3 linked regions of the Homo sapiens genome follow. Each later gene encodes a partner of the first gene's protein in a complex. Each region holds a gene or a part of one and is shown in the gene's direction. Other genes may lie near its edges.

The links. The genes of interacting proteins can lie anywhere in the genome.
Region 2: RUVBL2 (region 1) and URI1 share a complex: the UniProt entries of both Homo sapiens proteins name them as parts of the PAQosome complex.
Region 3: RUVBL2 (region 1) and EPC1 share a complex: the UniProt entries of both Homo sapiens proteins name them as parts of the nuA4-related complex.

The regions. Positions count from the first base shown.
Region 1 is NC_000019.10:48,996,106-49,004,601, forward strand, and holds part of RUVBL2 (ruvB-like 2), read left to right. Parts: intron 1-3,213; coding exon 3,214-3,268; intron 3,269-7,173; coding exon 7,174-7,229; intron 7,230-8,101; exon of another isoform or gene 8,102-8,150; coding exon of another isoform or gene 8,151-8,171; coding exon 8,172-8,313; intron 8,314-8,496. UniProt on the Homo sapiens protein: Possesses single-stranded DNA-stimulated ATPase and ATP-dependent DNA helicase (5' to 3') activity; hexamerization is thought to be critical for ATP hydrolysis and adjacent subunits in the ring-like structure contribute to the ATPase activity.
Region 2 is NC_000019.10:29,979,713-29,988,208, forward strand, and holds part of URI1 (unconventional prefoldin RPB5 interactor 1), read left to right. Parts: intron 1-446; exon of another isoform or gene 447-538; intron 539-5,510; coding exon 5,511-5,589; intron 5,590-6,569; coding exon 6,570-6,705; intron 6,706-8,496. UniProt on the Homo sapiens protein: Involved in gene transcription regulation. Acts as a transcriptional repressor in concert with the corepressor UXT to regulate androgen receptor (AR) transcription.
Region 3 is NC_000010.11:32,336,189-32,344,684, reverse strand, and holds part of EPC1 (enhancer of polycomb homolog 1), read left to right. Parts: intron 1-8,496. UniProt on the Homo sapiens protein: Component of the NuA4 histone acetyltransferase (HAT) complex, a multiprotein complex involved in transcriptional activation of select genes principally by acetylation of nucleosomal histones H4 and H2A.

The DNA.
Region 1 (8,496 bases):
AGGCCACAGCAGTCCAGCCTGGGGGACAAAATGAGATCTTATCTCAAAAAAAAAAACACAAACCTGTGGGAAGGAAGGAGACCTGGGGATGGGTGGCCTCGGTTAGCATGCTAGCTTCTTAGGCTTCCTTTTCCTTATTAGAAATTATGAACTATTCCAAAGTGTCAGAAAATAATGTAACAGACATGCAAAGATCCACCATCCAGGATTGTTTTTTTGTTTTTTCTTTTTTTCAAGACAGAGTCTCACTCTGTCTCCCAGGCTGGAGTGCAGTGGTGTGATCTTGGCTCCCTGCAGCCTCTGCCTCTCTCCCATGTTCAAATGATCCTCCTGCCTCAGCCTCCTGAGTAGCTGGGACTACAGGTGCGCGTCACCACGCCCAGCTAATTTTTGTATCTGTGTGTGTGTGTGTGTGTGTGTGTGTGTGTGTGTGTGTTAGTGATAGAGTCTTGCTCTGATGCCCAGGCTGGAGTGCAGTGGCGCGATCTCTGCTCGCTACAACCTCCGCCTCCTGGGTTCAAGCAATTCTCCTGCCTCAGCCTCCCAAGTACCTGGGATTACAGGCACCTGCCACCACGCCTGGCTAATTTTTTGTATTTTTAGTGTAGACTGGGTTTCACCATGTTGGCCAGGCTAGTCTCGAACTCCTGACCTCAAGTGATCCACCTGCCTTGACCTCCCAAAGTGCTGGGATTACGGGCGTGAGCCACCGTGCCTGACCTAATTTTTGTATTTTTAGTAGAGACAGGGTTTCACCATGTTGGCCAGGCTGGTCTCGAACCCCTGACCTCAAGTGATTTGCCTGCTTCAGCCTCCCAAAGTGCTGGTATTACAGGTGGGAGCCACTACGCCCAGCCTGTTGTTTTTTTTTTTTCTTAATAGCTTTATTGAGATAGAATTCACGTACTACATAATTCACCCATTTAAAGTATACAGCTCAGTGTTTTCTAGTATATTCACAGACTTGTGCAGCCATTTCCACAGTCAATTTTAGAACATTGTCGTCACCCCAAAAAGAAACCCCATGCCTCTTACCTGTCACCGCTAATCCTTCCATACCTCCCATCTTCAGTTCTAGGCAGCCACTAATCTTTCTCTGTATATGGATTTGCCTATTGTGGCTACTTCATATAGATGGAATCATACCATATGTGTCTTTCGTGTGTGGCTTCTTTCAGTCAGTATAATGTTTTCAAAGTTCATCCACGTTGTAGCATGTATCAGAACTCCATTCCTGGCCGGGCGCGGTGGCTCACGCCTATAACCCCAACGCTTTGGGGTGCCAAGGCAGGTGGATCACCTGAGGTCAGGAGTTCAAGACCAGCCTGGCCAACATGGTGAAACCCCATCTCTACTAAAAAATACAAAAAAATATTAGCCAGGTGTGGTGGCGGACACCTGTAATCCCAGCTACTCGGGAGGCTGAGGCAGAAGAATCACTTGAACCCAGGAAGCAGAGGTTGTAGTGAGCCAAGATTGCGCCATTGCACTCCAGCCTAGGTGACAGAGTGAGACTATGTCTCAAAAAAAAAAAAAAAAGAAAAGAAAAAAGAACTCCATTCCTTTTTATGACTGAATAATATTCCTTTGCACAAATAGACCCTGTTTTATTTTGCCATTCATCAGCTGATGGACATGTGGGTTGTTTCTATCTTTTGGCTGTTGTGAATAGTGCTGCCGTGAACACTCGTGTCCATGTTTTGTGTGGACCTCTGGGGGGGTCCTGAATTGTCCCGGGTGGTGTTTACTCACCTCCCTCCCCCATGTGAGAAGGGGTGGTAGCTGGCTCCTCTCTGTGGAGAACTGTCAACATGGGAAGCCTCGGTATATTCTTGTTGAATGAGCTCAGCACTTTAGAGTATCACTTAGCAAACCACAGACATTGAGTCCCGAGGTGAACAAGAGAGAACAGGCCGTGCCCTTCATGGGACTCATGTCCACTGGAGCAGAGAATATTGATCCATCCATCTCCCTCGGGAATGTGAGATCACACAGGGAGATCGGGCTCCCAGGGAGGCCTTTCATCTGTCTGAATGTCTAGAGGTCCTAGAACTAGCCTGGCAGGGCTGTTGGACAGAAAGGGCCTCCCCTAGGGGGCAGCACTTGATCTAATTCAGTGAGAGGGCAGGGAGAGCAGTCTGGACTCAGGGGCCAGCATGTGCAAGGCCTGGTGGTTGAGAACTGGGGCCGCCTGGTACAAGGGATGCTGGGAAATTAGCAGGGGCCAGAGCATGTCCAGCTCCATGCCTGCTCCTCATTGGTGTCTGTCCTTATGGAGCTCACAGTTATTAGAAATGGGGAGGACTTGTCTGGGCACGGTGGTTCACACCTGTAATCCCAGCACTTTGGGAGGCCTTGGTGGGCAGATCACTTGAGGTCAGGAGTTCGAGACCAGCCTGGCCAACCCCAGTAGAGATGGGCGAAACCCCATCTCTATTAAAAATACAAAAAAAATTAGCCAAGTGTGGTGGTGTGCGCCTGTAGTCCCAGCTACTCAGGAGGCTGAGGCGGGAGAATCGGTTAAACCCAGGAGGCGGAGGTTGCAATGAGCTGAGATCGGGCCACTGCACTCCAACCTGGGCGACAGAGCAGACTCCGTCTCAAAAAATAAGAAAAAAAAAAAAGAAATGGGGAGGACTTAGCCGGGCACAGTGGCTCACGCCCATAATCCCAGCACTCTGGGAGGCCAAGGCTGGTGTATCACTTGAGGCCAGGAGTTTGAGACCAGCCTGGCCAACATGGCAAAACCCCATCTCTACTAAAAATACAAAAATTAGCCGGGTGTGTTGATGCGCGCCTGTAATCCCAGCTAGTCAGGAGGCTGAGGCAGAGAATTTCTTGAACCCAGGAGGCGGAGGTTGCAGTGAGCCGAGATTGGGCCACTGCACTCCAGCCTGGGTGACAGAGCGAGACTTCATCTCAAAAAAAAAAAAAGAAACAGGGAGGATTTCATTCATTCACCAAATAACCAAATATGTGCTGGACCCTGAGGACCAAGCTGTCGATGAGACAGACAGTCCTTGTCTTCCTGGGGCTCAACCAACCAGCCATTAGGCAGTGACAGGCAAGAGGGGTGGGGGTGACTGGTGCCTGTCCCATCGCCTGCCTGTGAGGGGAAGGAGTGGAAAGGACCATCTCATGGGAGGGACAGAGGAGGGGTTGGTGAAAGCTGGGACCACACTAGTCCTCTGACACATCTTCTTGCACCCCCAGACAGCCACAACCAAAGTCCCGGAGATCCGTGATGTAACAAGGATTGAGCGAATCGGTGAGTGAGTTGGGTCAGGAATAGGACCTAAGCCCTGCCTGCCATGTGCCCTGACAGAGCAAACCTATTGAGGACCCCTAAGATGGAGAGGGAGGTGGCCTGCACACCAACTGTGCCCCCACTACCATTCCCCCACTCGCCCTATCTAATGGGGGAGGAGGATCCTCAGTTCCAGAGTTGGGTCAGATGATGCACTGGGGACCAGGCTGCTATCCTGGCTATCCTGGTGGGGTTCCCGGGTATGTTTGCCTGGAAGTCATAGATATTTACTGGGTGCTTTACTGGGTTTGGCCTCGTATACCCAGTACACACTGTGGGGTGAGTTCCCTGAGGGCAGGGACGAGGTCGTGTCATTCCTAGCTGTGTCCCTAGCACAGGACCTAACAGAGCAGATGATCAAGAGATAACCATTGAATGCACGAGTTTGCGTCCTGTGGAGCCCTCGCAGTAGCCGCATGAGGTGCATATTGTAACTGTTAGCTGAGGGAACTGATTTTCAGGACAGCTAAATCACTGGCCCCGGCTCACACAGAGCAGGAAGTTGAGACGCAGTGAGGCCAGCAGGGTGCGCTCTCACAAAGAGCTTTACCGGCAGGGAAGTGACCGCATTCATTCATGCAGCAGGCTCACTGATTCAGGGCATCCGAGAAAGGCAGTAAGGGCTTCTGGCTGTGAAGATGGGTTTTAGAAGCCCAGTGCTGGATTCCTGGAGCTTAGCTCTGCCACTTTCCCACCATGTGGCCAGGGACTAGTTCCTCTCTGTGCCTCAGTTTCCTTATCTGCAAGACGAAGCTAAGATAGTTTACCTCATCAGTTAATGTAAGATTCAGTAAGGTAGTTCATATAAAGCATTTTGGGTCTGTGTGCCAACACTGTTTCATCTATTAAAAGTGCTGGGGCACTGGGTGCAGTGGCTCATGCCTGTAATTCCAGCACTTTGGAAGGCCAAGGTGGGCGGATCACCTGAGGTCAGGAATTTGAGACCAGCCTGGCCAACATGGTGAAACCTCGTCTCTACTAAAAATACAAAAATTTGCTGGGCGTGGTGGCGCGTGCCTGTAATCCCAGCTACTCGGGAGGCTGAGGCAGGAAAATTGCTTGAACGAGGAGGTGGAGGTTGCAGTGAGCCAAGATCATGCCATTGCACTCCAGCCTGGGTGACAAGAGTGAAACTCTGTCTCTCAATAAATAAATAAATAAAAGTGCCGAGACTGGGTGCTGTAGCTCACGCCTGTAATCCCAGCACTTTGGGAGGCCGAGGCGGGTGGATCACCTGAAGTCAGGAGTTTGAGACCAGCTTGGCCAACATGGTGAAACCCTGTCTCTACTAAAAATACAAAAATTAGCCAGGCATGGTGGTGCATGCCTATAGTCCCAGCTACTAGGGAGGATGGCTTGAACCTGGGAGGCAGAGGTTGCAGTGAGCCAATATCGTGCCACTGCACTCCAGCTTGGGTGACAGAGTGACTCCATCTCAAAAACAAACAAAAAGTGCCAAGTATGGCCGGGCATGATGGGTCACGCCTGTAATCCTAGCACTTTGAGAGGTGGAGTCAGGAGGATTGCTTGAATCAGGAGTTCAAGACCAGCCTGAGTCACATAGTGTGATCCTGTCTCTAAAAAAAAAATAAAAAAATTAGCCGGCAGTGGTGGTCCATGCCTGAGTCCCAGCTACTTGGGAGAACTGCTTGAACCAAGGAGGTTCAGGATGTGGTGAGATGTGACTGCACCATGCACTCCAGCCTGGGTGACAGAGTGAGACGCTCTCTCAAAAAATAAAAATAAAAACATTTTTTTTTTTTTTTGGAGACGGAGTCTCGCTCTGTCGCCCAGGCTGGAGTGCAGTGGCGCAATCTCGGCTCACTGCAAGCTCTGCCTCCCGGGTTCACGCCATTCTCCTGCCTCAGCCTCCCGAGTAGCTGGGACTACAGGCGCCCGCCACCATGCCCGGCTAATTTTTTTGCGTTTTTAGTAGAGATGGAGTTTCCCCGTGTTAGCCAGGATGGTCTCGATCTCCTGACCTCGTGATCCGCCCGCCTCGGCCTCCCAAAGTGCTGGAATTACAGGCATGAGCCACCGCGCCTGGCCAAAAAACAATAAAAAATTAAAAAAAAAAAAAAAGGATGAAGAGCCAAGCACCGCTTGTGAGCTGAGGACCCAGTAGAGACTAGCTGCACCCAGGAGCCTCCCTTGGGGTGCTCACAGTCAAGCACTGGGGTCAGCAAATCTTTCCTTATTTTATTTTATTTTTTTTTTTGAGACGGAGTCTCATTCTGTCCCCCAGGCTGGAGTGCAGTGGCGCAATCTTGGCTCACTGCAAGCTCCACCTCCCGGGTTCACACCATTCTCCTGTCAGCCTTCCGAGTAGCTGGGACTACAGGCGCCTGACACCACGGCCGTCTAATTTTTTATATTTTTAGTAGAGACGTGGTTTCACTGTGTTAGCCAGGATGGTGTCTATCTCCTGACCTCGTGATCCGCCTGCCTCGGCCTCCCAAAATGCTGGGATTACAGGCGTGAGCCACCACGCCTGGACCCTAGCAAATCTTTCTTAAAGGGTCAGATGGTAAATCCTTCCTCTGTTGAAACTACTCAACTCTCCTCTTGCAGTGCGAAGGCAGCCACAGACAGTATATAAATGGCAGTGTTCCAATACAAAGATTTTTTGGTTGGTTTTTTGTTGTTTTTTTTTTGAGATGGAGTCTCACTGTGTTGCCCAGGCTGGAGTGCAGTGGGGCGATCTCAGTTCACTGCAACCTCCACCTCCCTGGTTTAAGTGACTCTCATGCCTCAGCCTCCCGAGTATCTGAGACTACAGGTGCATGCCACCACGCCAGGCTAATTTTTGTATTTTTTAGTAGAGACGGGGTTTCACCATGTTGGCCAGGCTAGTCTCGAACTCCTGACCTCAGGTGATCTGCTTGCCTCTGCCTCCCGAAGTGCTGGGATTATAAGCGTGAGCCACCGTACCCAGCTCCAATAAAATTTTATTTGCAAAAACAGGTGGCTGGCCTCCAGGCTGAGGTTTGCTCAACCCTCATCTAATGTAAAGCATGGGAATCCCATCTTCCCCTCTCGCTGGCTGTGTGGCTGGGGCATGGGACCTAACCTCTCTGAGCTCCCTCCCCATTCATATCAATAGGTTCTGGGACTGTTGCCATTTTGATACTCAGAAGTGCTTTCAGGGTGATAGCAGCCAGGGCTCTTGTTTCATTTTATTTTGTTTTACTGAGACAGGTCTTGCTCTGTCATCCAGGCTAGAATGCAGTGGCACAATCTTGGCTCACTGCAACCTCCGCCTCCCAGGTTCAAGCAATTCTCCTGCCTCAGCCTCCTGAGAAGCTGGGATTACAGTCATCTGCCACCATGCCCAGCTAATTTTTGTATTTTTAGTAGAGACAGGGTTTCACCATGTTGGCCAGGCTGGTCTCGAACTCCTGACCTCCAGTGATCCGCCCGCCTCGGCCTCCCAAAGTGCTGGGATTATAGGCAGGAGCCACTGCGCCCGGCCCCAGCCAGGGCTCTTTTTTTGCAGGATCATATGGAATAAACTGAGAACATGTGGGTGCTGTGTAAACCATAAACATGAAGTAATTGTGATCATTAGCCCTTGTGGTTAGATCTTAGTACAATTATGTGCTTAATCAGGCCTCAGTGACTTTTGTTTAACTAGGATGCATCCTCAGAGCAGCTCCAGTTCATTGAGCATTTACCACATTCAGCCATCTTCCTAGGGAGGTGCCAATTTGGGATATCCTTTCCATGTGCCCCTTCATTCCCCCAACCCCTGCTCCCTACTCCCACCCACCCCTTTGACAAAGAAGGAAACCAGGGCTCAGAGGGGTCAGGCCACATGTGCAGCAAGCTGGCTAGTAACTGAGTCTTTGTTCTTTCCCTTCATGTAGGTGCCCACTCCCACATCCGGGGACTGGGGCTGGACGATGCCTTGGAGCCTCGGCAGGTAGAGCAGAGGAGGCTGGGGTGTGAGGGCCTCTCCATGAAGGTCTTGGGTAGTGGGTACCCAGGGTCCTGGGGAGTGTGGGGACTATGTTACGGTCTTCTGGACCTTTGGCTACATACCCATAAACTTCAACCACATGTGGGTTTTCTTGGTACTAAAGAATTGATTAGGCTAGGTGTGGTGGCTCATGCCTGTAATCTCAGCACTTTGGGAGGCCAAGGTGGGTGGATCACCTGAAGTCAGAGTCAAGACCAGCCTGACCAACATGGTGAAACCCTGTCTCTACTAAAAATACAAAAATTAGCCGGGCATGGTGGTGCATGCCTGTAATTCCAGCTACTCAAGAGCCTAAGGCAGGAGAATTGCTTGAACCTGGGAGGTGGAGGTTGCAATGAGCCGAGATTGTGCCACTGCCCTCCAGCCTGGGTGACATCTCGGAAAAAAAAAAAAAGAATTGGGAGTGGGTAGCAATTGCTTTGCCACCTTAAAAAAAAGTTAGACTGGGTGCAATGGCTCACACTTGTAATCCCAATACTTTGGGAGGCTGAGATGGGAAGATTGCTTGAGCCTAAGAGCTTGAGGCCAGCCTGGGTAACATAGTGACACCTCCTTTCTACAAAAAATTTTAAAAATTAGCTGGACATGGTGGTGCACATTTGTGGTCCCAGCTACTCAAGAGGCTGAGGTGGAAGGATCTCTTGATCCCTAGAGGTCAAGGCTACAGTGAGCCATGATTGTACCACTGTACTTCAGCCTGGGTGACAGAGCGAGATCTTGTCTCAAAAAAAAAAAAAAAAAAAAAAAAAGCAGGGAAAGCTTTTTTGGCTTTTCCTAGAAGTCCCAGCTAGTAATGTCTGCTTCCATCTCACTAGCTTCCTGATGTGGTAGAAATGCCATGGTAGCCCCACAGGAAATCACCTCATGTGCGCCTCCCACCCACAGGCTTCGCAAGGCATGGTGGGTCAGCTGGCGGCACGGCGGGCGGCTGGCGTGGTGCTGGAGATGATCCGGGAAGGGAAGATTGCCGGTCGGGCAGTCCTTATTGCTGGCCAGCCGGGCACGGGGAAGACGGCCATCGCCATGGGTAAGAAACCTCCCAGGGCAGGAACTCTCCTGTTTCCTGCTAAATAACTCCTCCTGTGTAAGTCAGGGTCAGGATGAGCCGCCTTTAACAGATGACCCAAAATGGCAGTGGCTTAAACACTCAGGATTCATTCTTGCCCATGGAAGAATCTAGAGGTAGGCCATTTGGGGCTTATTAAGCAGT
Region 2 (8,496 bases), about 19 Mb from region 1:
TCATAAAATATAAAGAACATAGATTATTTCATCAGCATCTTCTGATGACATAAATTCCTTGGTATAATAGAGTTATAAAAAAGGAATATACCACCATTCTGCCTGAATTTTGTGGTACATTTCAGTTACTTATATCAATTGAAATTACTGAATATTTTGCCATGACCATTTAGAAAAAAAGTGTAATGCTATTGATTTAATTCAAGTACATTTAAATTTTCCATGAGGAGTGTTCCTTTTCCCACCAAATTGCATAAAGCATAACAGTATAGATCCCTTTTTCAAGAATTTTTAAATAAAATGTAACTTTTATCAATTTGTTTAGATTGTTTAAAAGGATACTTTGAAAAAAATCATTATTTCTTGCTTTAGTAACTGGAGGACATCTCTTTATCTATATAGAATCCATGCCCAAACTTAATATTCCTCTATTTTCTTGATTTTAGAGGTGAAAAGCCAGGCATCCTTCAAGCTAGTGGATCTTTGACAAAGATGCATTGCAAAACAATCAACAAACAATCAGAAAGGCATGCTATGTGTGAGTGATGATCCCTGCAGCATATGCCATAGGCTTGTTGTAGAGGAGCTGCTCAGTAAATGGTGGATTCAATTGAAACAAGTCTTTTTTGGATGCTTAATGGGAAGTTGTAGGGTGGGTATGATGGACTAAAAATTATTTCTAAAGAAGGTTATATATTGTATATATTCCAGAATCTTCCGTTTTTATCGTTTCTTAAATTAAAAAATAAAAATTTAACTCTGTCCCAGGTTAACTCAGATGTTAACACTTATATAGAAATTTTTTTCCTCTTTCCCCGTTAGGCATCTCACAGTATTTTCTGCTTGTCTGTTTAGGATGTTAGGTAGAGGAAAAGAGAGTGATAGAAGATTTTTTTTCTTAAAAAAAAAAAAAAAAAAAAAAAAAAACTGGGCCAGGCATGGTGGCTCACACCTGTAATCCCAGCACTCTGGGAGGCCGAAGCGGGTAGATCACAAGGTCAGGGTTCGAGACCAGCCTGACCAACATGGTGAAACCCCGTCTCTACTAAAAATACAAAAATTAGCCGGGTGCGGTGGCGCGTGCCTATAATCTCAGCTACTCAGGAGGCTGAGGCAGGAGAATCGCTTGAACCTGGGAGGTGGAGGTTGCAGTGAGCCGAGATCACGCCACGGCACTCCAGGCTGGGTGAAAGAGTGAGACTCCATCTCCAAAAAAAAAAAAAAAAAAAAAAGTTCAATGTTAGTATTTGCTGTCTATTTTAACTTCTTACTTTAAAGTAAAATTAGCAAAGTCTTATTGTTTCAACCTGATTTAAATTTTATCTCCCTTTTTTATTATTTAAAGGTTGGAGTCTTTATCACTGGCCTCAAAGGATGTAGACTTTTTTTTTTTAATAGAGATTTTTATTTTTGTCAGTCACTTTTAAGAGGATTAAAAATGTTGATCCCTTTCATATTTCCTCGTCCCTTTAAAAATATTCTATTATGACAAATTTCAAACATATGGAAGAGTGAATCTTGATCACCTATCTGTCTGTACCCTAATCCGTTAATCCATTTTTTTCTGATGAATTTCAAATTAAGTTGTGGACATCTGTGTATTTCACCCCTAAATACTTGAGCATATCCCTCATTTAACTTGATTTCTCTCTTACTTTCTACAATTTTATGCAAATGAGCTGTTTCCCATAGGTTCTGTCTTGATCTTAATCCTTTAAGGGTAAGGGCTAACTTGTGGTTGTGTTAATGGTCTTCATCGCTGCTGCCTATTTTTTTTTTTTAATTTCCTTAAAACAAAAGGTACTCTCAAAAGGCATATTGCACATGATTAGCAAGATTCAGAAGGAAGTGGTTAAAGTTTCTTACATGCCTTATACCTATGCTTTTAGTTCTTGTTTTGTATAAGGAATGTTGCATGAGGATATTGGAAAAAAATTTAAAATTAAGAGTTGAAGGCGGAACCTGATCTATAAGGATCCATTATGTTGAAGCCAAAGAAGCAGGTCTAGCTATTCTAAGTAAGTAGGCTGGAGAGGTGTTTCTTAACTCTATCTGGGTTTTGTTTTCCATTTGAAGAAAAATTATTTTAAGCAATTACCATTTTTGATTACTGTAATGACTCCTGTGTCCAAAAATTAATTACGTTTCTAATTATTAAAATAGAAAAAAAAATCTGTTCAAATTTTGTTATAAATAAAGACCCCAGACTTAACCTCAGTAATGCATTAGTTCTTAGCATAACTTTTGCATTTTCTGTTGCATAGGCTTTGTGATCTTTAACAGGATTATTTAAGCCTGAAATAATAGAGATACTATTTGGAGATCACTGTTTGACTAAGCCCTGAACATTTCCACGAATGTAGCCTTTAGAGAGAGAGGGTTCCTCAAGCTGTAGTTTCTTCCAGAGACATTGCTTGACTCCTCCTGGCCTCCCTTCATAAAGGATTTCTACATGGGCTGCATTTTAAGTGATCTTCTACTTTTGTATTTTTAGAAAATAATTCAAAATTTATAAATAGCAACTCTAATCTTAAACTGCTCTCCAGTATGTCCGCATTTTTATTCCAGAGAGAATTATTAATAAGTTGAAAACTGATTATATTTGACTTGAAATATTGACATTGATCTCTGGTATTGCCTGTTTTTGAACGTACTGTTCTTTTAATGTACAAAATAGATGTTTTTTGTGAGGAAGTTGTTTTTTTTTCTCCTAAGCATTGTTACCAAAATAAGACTTATTGAATGGTGACTTTAATACTAGCTTCTTAATATTCATAGAAATATTTAGATATCTAGGCTGGTGTATTTAGTCCTTGAGCATTTGCAGAATTACTTATCTGAAACATAAATAAGCTGTTAGTGTTATGTTATTAATAGTGAGTGTTGACTGTCTAGGCACTGTACCAGTCAGTCCTATGGAGACATTCTCCCATTGATTGCTCACACCAGTCCTGTTTCCAAAGCCCCTGAATGGTTACATTCAGCTGTACTGTCTTTCAGCAAGTTATACTATTTGTATCAAATTGGTTAGTGAAATCTTGTAGGTAATAGTCTTTCTTGAAAGTTTTGGAATTGATGTTTTTTGATGCTTCATGAAAAAAATGAGTTTTGAGTTTTGGAACCAAAATAGTAGTTGCTCCATGCTGGGCAGTGTGTTAGACCTTTTATATTTAATTCTGTTGAACCTGTGAGATAAGTATTAGTCCAATTTTGCCATTGAAGTTACTAAGACTAAGGTGAATTTGTGTAAATTGCATGTAGAGCTTGGGATTCACTCTCTGGTCTGACTTCAAAGCCATGTTCTTTCTGGTACATAGCCTTGTGCATGAAGTTTTTTTGCCATTTTATCCATATAAAAATTTTCCAGGAGGAGGATTTTTGCCTTAAACAAAAGAATAAAACATGTTTCGTATTTATTTATAGAAAAGGATTTTTTTTGGGGAAAGTTATAAAGCAGTTGCACACTAGAAAATGAGAAAGCTTTCATGAAGGAATGCAGGTCAGAAGACCTAGCTAGGTTAAACTCATTGCTTACCTCATCTTGATAGAGGAGATCTGGCTTCTTGCTATGTGGTTTTTCCATCTTCCTTCTACTTTGTCTTCTGTAAGAGAAAAATACTGATAAGTGACATTTATTATAGGTTATGTAAAATAATATATATGTGAAATTCCTTAAGATCTTAAGACTGAGCTAATTTTTTTTTATTAATTATGCTACTGTTGCTTCAGGGAACTAAGCAGTAAGCTGAAACCAATTCTGTGATGTTTGTCATTTATATTATCTGGAGAGTTGTTACCTACATTGCAGTTTATCCTGATTTCAATTTGACAATGTCTACATGTTCTTTTAAATTACTTGCTGAGTTGGTGAATTTTTGTTTCTGTTATTTTTAAAAACTGACAACATCCTTCTGCTTAAAAAAAATTCAGTGCTGTAGTTTTGCTTGCAGCCTGTATCTTAGCAGGGAACCCTTTGGAAACCCAGTCTCCAGAGAAAGTTTGACGGGCATCTTGGCATAGGCTGCTGCCTGGTATTACTCAAAAAGAAGGGCTGTTCATTTCCAGCAGGTGTTAAGAGCTGAGTAAGGCCCATAGCATGGAAATACGATCATCTCTGCCCCTACAGAGTTACATATACCTTTTGGTTGTTTGAAATTACTTATTTGGTAGCTCTGTTTGATGTAACAAGAAACAGACTCCTAGGCCAAATTGAAACGCCTTTTGTATTATCTCTACTTAATTTCTTCTACCCCCAGTTGATTCTCTCTTACCTTAATCACATTATTATGAATAATTGAAGAGCTGATGATGCATTTTTCAGCCTAAGGTTTTCTGATGAGGACTAAAGCATCTGATCAAATTTCATGTTCATGATTTCAACTTCACAGCCAGTATCTATTCACTCAAAAGCTTTATTAAATCTCTTCTTTCGGCCGGGTGTGGTGGCTCATGCCTGTAATCCCAGCACTTTGGGAGGCTGCGGTGGGGGGATCGCTTGAAGCCAGGAGTTCGAGACCAGCCTGGCCAACGTGGCGAAGAAACCTAATCTCTATGGAAGATACAAAAATTAGCTGGGCGTGGTGTCATGCGTCTGTAGTCTCAGCTACTCAGGAGGCTAAGGCAGGGGAATCACTTGAACCCAGGAGGTGGAGGTTGCAGTGAGCTGAGATTGTGCCACTGCACTCCAGCCTGGGCAACAGAGAGAGACTCTGTCTTAAAATAAATAAATCTCTTCTTTTTTCATCTTGAGTCCCTTCTTCTCTCCAAATATCAGGCCCTCTTTTACTGTCTCCCTTAATTTTCACATTTTATTTGGTCCAGATAGTCTTGTATCTTAAAAAACAGTAATTCTCAAAATTTGAGTATTCTGCTTCTAAATGCCAGAGTCCCTGAAGAGTCTTAATTCTTCAATAAATGTATGGTAGAATAATGCCATTGCTAAACTGTATAAAAACAGGATTTTAAAACTAAAAATAAAACCACATTAATCTTGAATTTGCTAAAATTATGTTTTTGATTAGCTTGTTTTATGATACCTGGCCTACTGGGCCTCCCAAATTGCTGGGATTACAGGCGTGAGCCACCACACACGACTGAAAGAAGAGATTTAATAAAGCTTTTGAGTGAGGCCAGGTGCAGTGGCTCACGCCTGTAACTCTAGCACTTCAGGAGGCTGAAGTGGGAGGATCATGAGGTCAGGAGTTCAAGACCAGCCTGACCAACATGGTGAAACCTCCTCTCTACTGAAAATACAAAAACTAGCCTTGCATGGTGGCGCACACTTGTAATCCCAGCTACTCAGGAGGCTGAGGCAGGAGAATTGCTTGAACCCGGGAGGTGGAGGGTGCAGTGAGCCGAGATCACGCCACTGCACTTTAGCCTGGGCGACGGAGCGACACTCTGTCTCAAAAAAAAAAAAAAAAAAAAAAAAAAAAAAAAAAAAAAAAAAAAAAAAAAAAAAAAAAGAAAAATCGTTAATAATGTGTGTATTTGGTGTTTTCTGTCAACAGGAAGAAGGTAGATAATGACTATAATGCCCTTCGAGAAAGACTCAGCACCTTGCCTGATAAATTGTCTTATAATATAATGGTATGTTTGGTGTGTTTCTTTTAAAGTAATAGTTGTTTCTTGTAAACATATTAACTATGTGTCGGTTCACAGAATGTCAGGCTGATGGACTGTGTCCAAGGTAACTATGTAGCAAGGAAGATTTGTTTTGTTTTACTTTATAAGAACACAGTAATTGTAGTAATTGTTGGTATTTACCTTTTTTTTTCAGAATATATATGGTGACACAAATGACATAAATATTAGCACAAAATTGGACATATTTCAAATGGAAACTTACTATATAAAAAATGTAATTATGACAGAAATATGGTACTAAGTCGTTTCTTGTTAGCCAGAGCAGGAATAGGCCATAATGTTTTGTAATTCACAGAATTAAACCTTAGGACATTGATTTTTATATAAAAACGTGCTGCTAATTTTTGTTTTAATGATCTTCACATCGACATAGTGATCTGTTCATGAGCCCTGGATTAGAGCCTTTCATTGCATGAATGTTCTTTCTTATGAAGACTTTGTTCTTTTATACTAGTCCAAGTATTTTGTATATATAGCTAGATAGATCCATTAAAGCTATTTGTTTACTAATTCCTGCTTTGCAAAAGTGTCTACTTTATTGAAAATAATTTTTAGTTTTCTTTATCAAAAGTATTTTGCATTGACAATGTTTCACTACTAGTTGCTTTCACTTAGATTTGCAAGTGAATGAAAAGTATAAACATGCCGAGACAGTACTACTTTCTTTAAGAGCTATATGTAAATATGGTGTGGATTTATTTTCCTGTTTTAACATTGATTTATGAACATAAAGCAATTTTCTTTAGATTTTCCTAGTAAAATTTTAATATAGTGTTGAATTTCTGTGAAGCTGGCATTTTATTTTTCCCAATGTATAAATAAAAAAATTCAGTTATGTAAGGCTTTTAATGCGAAGTGTTTTATAAAATGTACTTTTCAGTGTTTTATGTTTTTTCCCTTTTTTCTTTTTTTTTAAACAATAGGTACCATTTGGCCCTTTTGCCTTCATGCCAGGAAAACTTGTCCATACTAATGAAGTCACTGTTTTACTGGGGGACAACTGGTTTGCAAAGTGCTCAGCAAAGCAGGCTGTAGGTTTAGTTGAGCACCGGAAAGAACGTAGGTACCCATTTTAAATGATGTTTCTTTGTTGTATATGTATCCATTCACAGATTGCCAAGCTGAAGGGCTGTTTCTTACCAAAAGTACCTTCCGTGATCTATGAATCCAGGCTGTTTGTGATTCTGTTGAATTGTAGGTAGTTTGAGTAGAACCAACATTTGAGAATGAGCTGGAGAATGGAGCATCCGGGTTGGAAATGTCACCTACATTGGCATGTTTTCAGAAGTTACAAAGTTTCAAAGTCATTATGTGATTTTGTAGTTAGAAGTTGGGAAGACATAAAAATTGGAGTCATTTTATACCTTATAATTTTTTTTTAGTTGCTATTATAGACTTATTTTTGCACTTAATACTTTAGTACACAGAAATAATGTGTTTTCTCCTTAGTGAACTAAGAGAAATACCTGTTTACATAAGTAGACAATTCTTAAAAATGCTTTTTGGTTTGGAAAAAAAACCATATTTTCATTTGATAGAGGAGACCAGGTGTGAAAAGGTGCTACCTAAAACAGCACCCTTATCCTTTTTCAGTTGTTTGAGTTCTCTGCATCCCTTTATTAGGGCAGCTCTTGAGTTTTGTTTATCCGTGCTATTATCTGTAGGTGTATAGAAGCCTACATACACACACACAACACACACTACACATTTTGCAGTTGGATGAGCTAGCTTGGGTTCTAGCTTAGTTATATTTTAAAATTAGGTTCAGTTTATAATCTGTTGTTATTTCTGTAATACGTATTTAGATTGAGAGTATAATATCCGCCCTACCTGCTTTTTAACCTTTTAGTTAAATGTGTATTTGAAAATAAATGATGGGAAGATCCTTTTTTATAAATAAGGTCATACTAAACAGAAAACAGCTGAGTTTTCTAAAGCTGAACTTGATTTCACTTATACATGAATGAGTACTAGAGAACTCATTTACTCAGTGAAATTCTGGGAACTATATTTGGAGACTCTAATTGCAAATCAACTCCTATAAGTTTATAATTGATATATATTTTGATCTTTTGTGACACTAATCAGAATCTTATTGTTAGGCCTGTATGTAATTTCTGGCAATGATAAATCTTTTGGCTTTGCTGCATTATTTTTGTCATGTATATTAGCGAAAGAGAATGGGCATACTTTTTTCTTAAAGACCTTACTGAAGACGAAGCCTCTCTTTATATACTGAAGTAGCTCTGATGTTATGAAATGAATCCATAGCCTGTTGAAGTTTGTTCACATTGATTTTCATATTTCAGTGAAAAAAATCTTTATAATTAGTTATAACTTAAAATATTAATGGGAATACTTATACTACAATAGAATAGAGCTCTAGAGTAGAGAAACATGTTTTTGTAAATCACTTTCTAGTAGTTAAATATGGTTTTGGAAAGTGACCAAACATAGATGACTTTTGGGATCAATATTTATCTAAAATAATTTTCAAAGTACATATTTCCTGTTACAATAAATTCTGGGCCGGGCGCAGGGGCTCATGCCTGTAATCCCAGCACTTTGGGAGGACAAGGCAGGTGGATCACCTGAGGTCAGGAGTCCGAGACCAGCCCGACCAACGTGGTAAAACCTCGTCTCTACTAAAAATACAAAAATTAGCCGGGCGTGGTGGTGTGTGCCTGTAGTCCCAGCTACTTGGGAGGCTGAGACAGGAGAATCACTTGAACCCAGGAGGTGGAGGTTGCAGTGAGCTGAGATTGTGCCACTGCACTCCAGCCTGGGCAACAAAGCGAAATTTTGTCTCAAAAAAAAAAAAAAAATTACGTAAAGCTCTTTTATTCACAT
Region 3 (8,496 bases), on another chromosome or scaffold:
CCTCCCCAGTAGCTGGGATTATAGGCGCTTGCCACCGCGCCCGGCCGATTTTTATACTTTTAACAGAGACGGGGTTTTGCCATGTTGGCCAGACTGGTTTTGAACTCCTGACCTCAGGTGATCCGCCCGCCTCGACCTCCCAAAGTGCTGGGATTACAGGCATGAGCCACCGCGCCCGGCCAATTTTGACATTTTATACTGCAGTGGCTATCAATAGTTTGTAACATGTGGAGTCCCTAATTTTGAAACACAGGGATTTTTTTTTTTCTTCAGATTGCCTTTTCCAAATATCTGTTTAGAATTTTTCACTTCACATCCAACCAAAGCTATGTATGAGGAGAGAAGCATAGACCTCAAGAATAGACACTGAACCTAATGGAAGAATGTAAAAAGTACCTGGTAAACAAGCTGCTTTACAGTCCTGTGGTTCATGCTGTTAGTGGTAGGGTGTGTAAATCATAATATTGAAAGTAGTGTGTTATGCAGTGTTGAAAAGGTATATTAAACATAAAGGTAATTGAATTCTGGATTCTCCATAGAAAAACAAACTTTTTGATGTGCGGAAGTATTTTGTACTTCTAATAAAGAGGAAGGGTTAAAGCAAACTTCTGCCTTTAACTGACACATTAGTTATTTGTTATCTTATTAGGTCACTGTAACCTAGAACCTGAACTGACTGTCTTAGAAAAAAAAGTATGTAGTCCTATGTTGGTCCTGAAAGGTGAGGGCAGTTTTTTTATACACCACCTGATTAAAGCATTTTATTGATCAAAATAATCTGCAGAATTGTCATGTGAAATACACCTAGTAATTGTTACGTTGTTTCTGGATATACTTGACAGAAATCCAGGTCTTTTAACATTGGGAAAATAAGTATTATTCGTGTATTCCCATTTAACCAGTTTTAATACTATGAGCTGCACACACGGGCCTAACGAGGCAGACTTTTTAAGAAACAACTTTAAGTAGAAGCCCTTACACCCCCCCCCCAAAATAATTTGGAGGCAGAAAATGTTACTGAACTTATCTATTTTTTTAATTGTAGTAGTACTGAAAAAGTAACTTCAGATTGTGGTAAATTGAAGGATTTGACTGGGTCAAAGATGTTAGAGATTAAATGTGAATTCGCAGAATGTAATGCATCGAAATTTGCTAAGTCTGAAAGTAACAGATTGGCAGGATGCGGTGGCTCACGCCTGTAATCCCAGCACTTTGGGAGGCCGAGGCGGGTGGATCACCTGAGGTCAGGAGTTCGAGACCAGCCTGGCCAACATGGTGAAACCCTGTCTCTACTAAAAATACAAAAATTAGCCAGCCGTGGTGGCAGCTGCCTGTAATCCCAGCTATTCGGGAGGCTGAGGCAGGAGAATCGCTTGAACCCGGGAGGTGGAAGTTGCAGAGAGCTGAGATCCCCCCACTGCACTCACAGCCTGTGCAAGAAGAGCGAAACTCGTTTCAGAAAAAATAATTTAATTAAAAATAAAGTAACGGATGATGAAAACAATGTATTTAATGAAGTACAGATGTGACTTAAATCACAGCGAAATAATAGACTTTCAGCTCTGAGATAATTGAGTCCCTTTGGGGTTTAAAAAAAGATAAAAGTTTAAACAAGTGCTTGGTTGGTGTGGGGCATATGTCCTATTATGAATATTTTACAATGTTAACTTTAAGATTATAATTTAATTATCTTTATAATCTTAAATCTTGTGCTACGGCTTCGCATTCTATTGAAAGGTTAAACTTACCAAATGGATTAATACTATCAAATCTTTTTATTAAAATTGACTCTTGATTAAAATTGGAGCTTTATGTTGTTAACAATTCTCCTTTATGGAAACATCACTTTTAAAAAGTCGATTTTAAAATGATGTTTAGCAAAATGGAGCTACTGTTCCACAGTAGTTTAACTTTTCATTGGGTTGTCTAGGGTGCGTTGTTCCATTTATGAGGGGGTGGCAACTTAACCTTTCCTCTCCTGTTACCTAGACTGGTTTGGGGAGGAGATTTGGTGTAATTAAGATGTTAATGATGTTTTCATATTGATACTACCCTACAGTCACCTTTGAAACTGTTACAAGTAGGATCTAACCACCATAATCCAGCACCTTGGTTCTATAGGATTCTAACAGGACAGGATGGTCTTTATACTCCCACCTTTTCTGTATTACTGGCACAATATACATTGTTACTAAGCCCAAGTTAAGAACTATTTATAAGAAGTGGATGGGAGTTGTTTGTTTTTAATTATGGGGAAATGGGAAATATGTACATATCCTTGATATGAGAAAAAAATGGTTACCCCATTTCCAAAACTTAGTAATAAAAACCTAGTTTAAATTTAAATCACTTTGAAAGAAACCAACAGTCTCTTTCTTTAACCTTTAATATTTTAAACCAATATTTTTAGTCCCTTTATCTGGAGCTGTAAAGATCAATCTAGATTTCTCCATTCTATCCACTCTCTTGGAAGTGAAGAGAAATACATGAAATCTCAATTATAGTAGAAGCAAAGTTTAACAAACTAATTACAGATAGTTTGAATTAGAAAAGAATTGAGAGTATGGGGATTTTTGCATTAGATTACAATTACTTCAGATAAAATCAAAGAGAATTAATAAAATGTTTCAGCTTTCTATACTGTCCAAAGGTATTTTTGCATAAAGTTGCTAAGCTAGGGTTCTGAGGATTATGTGGAAATAATTCTGGAAGTGATGGATTCCCACCATATGCCTATAAAATGTTAGAATATATTTTTCTAGGGAGAAGGTTCACACTTGTCATCAATTTCTCAAAGTATCGGTAATGGGCTGGGGCAGAAAGCCCAGGGGTTAAGATCAGCTGTTCCATAAATTTCAAACTGAGTCATTTTGGTTTTATCTCAGTTTGGCAGTTACTAAATAGACTTAGTCAAAGGAGGATAATTGAAAAAGGACAGGCAGTCCAGGAAGAGACTAAGGATTCTTGAATACAGAAGGGACCTTTTGAACACTTTACATGCCTATGCACCTGAAATGTTAGTATTAACTTTTGTTTCAGTATACCATTTGAATGTGTTTATGTATCTAATGGTATTTTGTGGGTGCTTTTCATGATCAGCAATGGCATTTGTACTGAATTACATTTTTTTCTGTTAATAGGACTTAATTAAAAGTACTGCCTACAGTGTAGCTTAAATTTTGTAAACGAGAGAAAAAATTCTGCATAAAGGTTCATGAATGTGTGGGCAGGATTAAATATACCAACCAATCCTGTTAAAAATGGCTGGGTTTTAGTTTTATATTTTGCATTCTACTGTGTCATGGTATGTACTGGTAGTAATGGTAGAAACATAGAATCTATACACACACACAGACACACACACACAGACATGTGTCCATGTTTTAAAGCACTTAGTAATGGCAAGAGTCCTTTTTATGTATGTAAAGATGTGATTTCTGATTACATTTATTACTCAATTTTCTTGAAAAGTTAAGGATGCTTAATTGTTAACAGCAGTTAGTTAAAAGCAGAAGATAGCATTTTAAGGGAGCAATAATACCATGGAATTGTATCATTTGTGATTGTACTTCTTAGAAGAAGAGATGCACAAGGAAATGAGAATTTTATATTGTAATTCAGGAATAAAAAGAATTGAGCGTGTCTAAGGGCAAAAGTGATATGAAAGTATGACATACTTTCAGAGACAACTAGAGTATGTATTTACTTTTAAAGTAGACTTTTGGAACACTGAAGTGTGACTTGCATTGATAACAATAACTTTTTGGTAAGAATAAACCAAATTCTGAGAAATCAATGAGAAGACAAGGGATTCAAATGTTTTAAACAACTTGCTAGAATTGCGGGTTTTTTTTTGAGTCAAAGTCTTGCTCTGTCACCCAGGCTGGAGAGCAGTGACACGATCATAGCTCACTGCAGCTGCAGCCTCAACCTCCCTAGCTCAAGCAGTCCTCTCACCTCAGCCTTACAAGTAGCTGAGACTACAGGTACACACCACCACGCCTAATTTTTTCTATTTTTATTTTTAAATATTCACCATGTTGCCTGGGCTGTTCTCAAACTCTTGGGCTCAAGTGATCCACCCACCTTGGTCTCCCAAAGTGCTGAGATTATAGGCGAGAACCACTGCACCTGGCCCTAGAATTGCTTTTAATTTATTGATGCTAACTGTTGCCTTCAACACATTTATAAACTGTAGAAAATCTTTCTTGATTAGGTGTATTAAATCCTGTAATAATAGGTAGTGATTTTGAGTTCTTACAGTATTTTAAATATAGTGGACACTCAACTTTGCACCTTTAAATATATGAAGTGAATTCCATCTACCAACCCTGCTGTAATAGGTATATGAAAAACAAAAGCAAACTTGCTGTACTTATTACATCTACTATAATATGTTATCTGAGGTGTAGCTTTGATCAATGCAGATACAATCAATTTTTTAAAAGATAAAGCCCTCCCTCAAGTATTTGTTGTAATGGAGGTTATCTTTAAAGTTTTGGTTCAGTTTTTGGATATGTGTTGTGATAATCACTTGCTGAATTGCAAAGCAGATTATTTAAGCAAATCGTTTTGGTTGAATTTCCCTCAGTATAGCAAGTACTGACTGAAGAAATTGGATGTGACCTTAGAGTGAATCTAGGGGCAAACATGACCTGAGGTTTAAAATGTCCTGTGAATGATTTAATATAGGTTCTAATCTTTTTATATATTGGGATGAACTATTTTGATAATGTAGCAATTGTATATCCTCTGAGCATCCAAATAGCAATTGTGTATCCTAAGGAAACTTTCCCTACCTTGATTTTGTATCCATTGACAAGTCACTTAACGTCACTGAAAGAACTTTAGTCTCTGCATTTCTTAAGTCTTCTGAGCTACCTTACAAAATAGCTCTGAGGAGTGAATAAGGCAGTGTATGAAAAATCATGTACAGATGAATTTCATTATTACCAAACACTAATAGAATTTTTAGAACGGCCTTGCTTTTTGTTCTCAGAAGATACTTAACATTATATTTTGTATTTGGGATTGTGTGACATAAAAGTGTTAGATGTATTTTGTGTCCTTAGAGAGTTGTATGATATGATTGTGAAAAACTATGTATTTTAACTTAGGTTGTTATTATTATTATTACTATTGAGAGAGAGTTCACTCTGTCACCCAGGCTGGAGTGCAGTGGCATGATCTCGGCTCATTGCCACCTCCACCTCCCAGATTCAAGCGATTCTCGTGCCTCAGCCTCCTGAGTAGCTGGGGCTACAGGTGTGTGCCACCATGCCCAGCTAATTTAGGTAATTATTAATAGGAAAAAGCATCAAACTCGGAGTTACTAGATGTAAGGCCTTACTCTAGCCTCTAGCTCTGCTTCCACATGCCCCAGGTTTTCTTGACTGTAAGATGCAGTAGGCCTATGGTAGTTTCCTGTTGTAATGAGAATATTCTGTTGCCATTATATTTAAATCTGTTTCCAAAAGAATTTTATGTGTTTAGAGAATAGTCATTAAATCTTGAGTTAATCTCATTTGCATATTATGTAGACATAATTTGCATGGAAGTAAAGGTGCATGGATAGTTGGTTCCAGTTTAAGAAGGGTCAAGTTCTAAAAGCCAGTCTCTAAAGGATTTAAAGATGTAATTGGATGCAGTAGTCAGAAAATAACTTTTATTGTCATGAGAATTTGAGATTAGAGCCAGAATTTATTATTATTTTTATTATTTTATTTATTTATTTATTTATTTTTTTTGAGACAAGGTCTCCCTCTGTTGCCCAGGCTGGAGTGTAGTGGTGTGATCTCGGCTCATTGCAGCCTCAGCCTCCTGGGCTCCAGGCTCCTCCCACCTCAGCCTCCTGAGTAGCTGAAACTCCAGGAGGATGCCACCATATGTTCTTATGTGGCAGTGGAACAAGATACTACAGAATTTTAGTTAGAAGGAGAAGGATAATTTTCTTTGGGTAGGTGGTTAGGAAACATGTGGCCTGAAACTTGAGTGGTGGTAATGAGCCGTGGGAAGATCTGCATGAGGAATAATCCAGAGAGACCTACAGGTGCACAGAGCCTGAGCTGAAACAGGAGGCCATTGTACTCAGAGCAGAGTGAGCAGGGGGTTGTAGATTAGGAGATGAGGACACATACGTACTCACGATCCAGATCAGGAAGGGATTGTTAGGCTACCATGAGAAGTTTTGACTGTGTTGAAATGAAGTAAGCTATTAGCGAGTTTAAGGGAGTGACATGATCTGATTTAATGGTTTTTCAAGATTATTCTGGCTACCATGTGGAGAATGAGTCATACTGGGCAAGAGTGATGATGGTGGCTTTAAGTAGGGTTGGTGCTAGTGGAAATGAAGAGAAATGGATGGATTTGAGATATATTTTGAGGAGCCAGAACCAACAGAACTTGCTGGTGGATTTGAATGTACTAGATGGAGAGAGAGAATCCGAGGATGAACCTCCAAGTTGAGCAGCTGGATAGATGAGTGGGCCTCTTACAGGGAAGGGACAGTTAGGGGTGGGGGATGTAGAAGGGATGGACTTGTTCAGTTTGAAATGTGCCTCTTTCGTCCTGATTGGATATGTGAGAATATGCACATTAGAGCAGTTTGTGCTAGAAGTGTATAATTTGGAAGTCATGAGTTGGTCCTATAAATCTGAGAGTCTTCAGCTTATGAATCGCATGGAATGCTGTGCTCTGGGACTCAGAGGAGGAGCTACTGAAAAGATTTTCTTCATTTTTAGAATAAAAGCATCTCAAGAAGGAAGGACATTGGTTAACTATGTCCACTGAGAAGATGAAAGTATGGGAAAGTAATTTAATTAGATATGTGCCATTGGCATGTTTTGGTGGAGTGGTGAGAAGGAAAGCCCAGCTGGAGTAGAAGAAATAATAGAAGATGAAAAAGGGGACATAGCAAGTATAGTCAACTCTTTGGAATAGCTCTGCTATGAAAGAGAGAAAAAAACAGGGCTGGAGTAGCTGGAGGAGGCTCCCAGATCAGCAAATGATTTCTTTTAAAAATTAGTTACAAAGTTCCATCAGGCACAAATGAAGGAAACAAATGAAGCTGAGCCCTAGATTGACCCACTTCACTGCCTTGAGAGTTTTCAGATTGCAGCACAGGGATGGGAAATTCCAAACAGATGTGGCAGCTCCTTCAGTTGAAGAAACAGAATTCAGAGTGTGGGGAGGCCTAAGTGACTTTGGAGCAGAGTACCAGGGCTGCACAGAAAAAGAGCTCCAGATATTCACAGGGTGTCCCTTCGAGTGTCTAGCTGAAAACTGATCTGATCCTGTCCATGAGGAACTTCCAAGTCTAGGGAAAAGCAAGAGGAAAGAAAGAACAGTTTGGGAAGCTCATAGGGCTGAGACTGTGCTACACATTCCCACTAACCAGAATGGAAAGGCCTCAATACACAGCGTATCAAGTAGAACCCTCAGAAGGGTTATTGTCTCAGTAGTGAGGCCGAGGCCAGATTAGTTCTAAAGACTGTTCTGGACTTGCCCTAACAAAGATTGAGTACTAGCCTCAAAAGAATCAAACTAAATTTCAAGTAACTTGATTGTGTCCCAGAACAAAGGCCAAAAATGTTTAAAGGAATATTTAGAGATCCTGCAACATAAAGCTCAGTGTTTAGCATCCAATAAAAAATTATCAGGCATTTAAAGAAGCTGGAAAATATGGCCCATAATTAGGGAAAAAATTAACAGAGACATAGAAATAACCCAGGTAATCAAATTAGATTAAAATGTTAAAGCTACAAATAAAAGCAAGAATTACTAGAACTTGTAGAATTATTTCATTTGAAAAGTATGAAATAATCCCATCCTCTCTCCTACTCAAGGACTTCACTCCTAATAACTATTTTATGTCTCTCCTGGATCCATTTAATGGAGATATTGGTTACTAATTCCAACAGGAACTTTTTTTTTTCCTTTGTGAAAGGAAGGCAGATAAATGAGAAAAGATGCATGTCAGTCGTTAAGAGTTGATTATGACAGGATGAGGTAGTTTATCCTATGGTTGTATTTTCTCTATGAGGTATGAGTGAGGTCATCACCTCAAGAGTGAGGGAGAACCTTCAGAGATGAGGTAGGTATAGGAGAGCTAACTTAGAAAAATGTAAAAGGATTGATAGACTTGCTGAGGGCTCAATATTTGTGATCATTTAAAGTGAGACCAGTCAGCTCACTTGGGCAGTAGCATTCACTTGAGTTCCAGCACAAAGTAGGTAGATAGGGTTTGTCAAGGGTCAATGTTTGGCCAGCAAGTAGAAAGGAGGAAGACAGGGATGAAGGCATTAAAAATTAGGTAGTAGGCCGGGCACGGTGGCTCACACCTGTAATCCCAGCACTTTGAGAAGCCGAGGCAGGTGGATCACGAGCTCAGGAGTTCGAGACCAGCCTGGCCAACATGGTGAAACCCAGTCTCTACTAAAAATAACAAAAATTAACTGGACATGGCGGCAGACGCCTGTAATCCCAGCTACTCCAGAG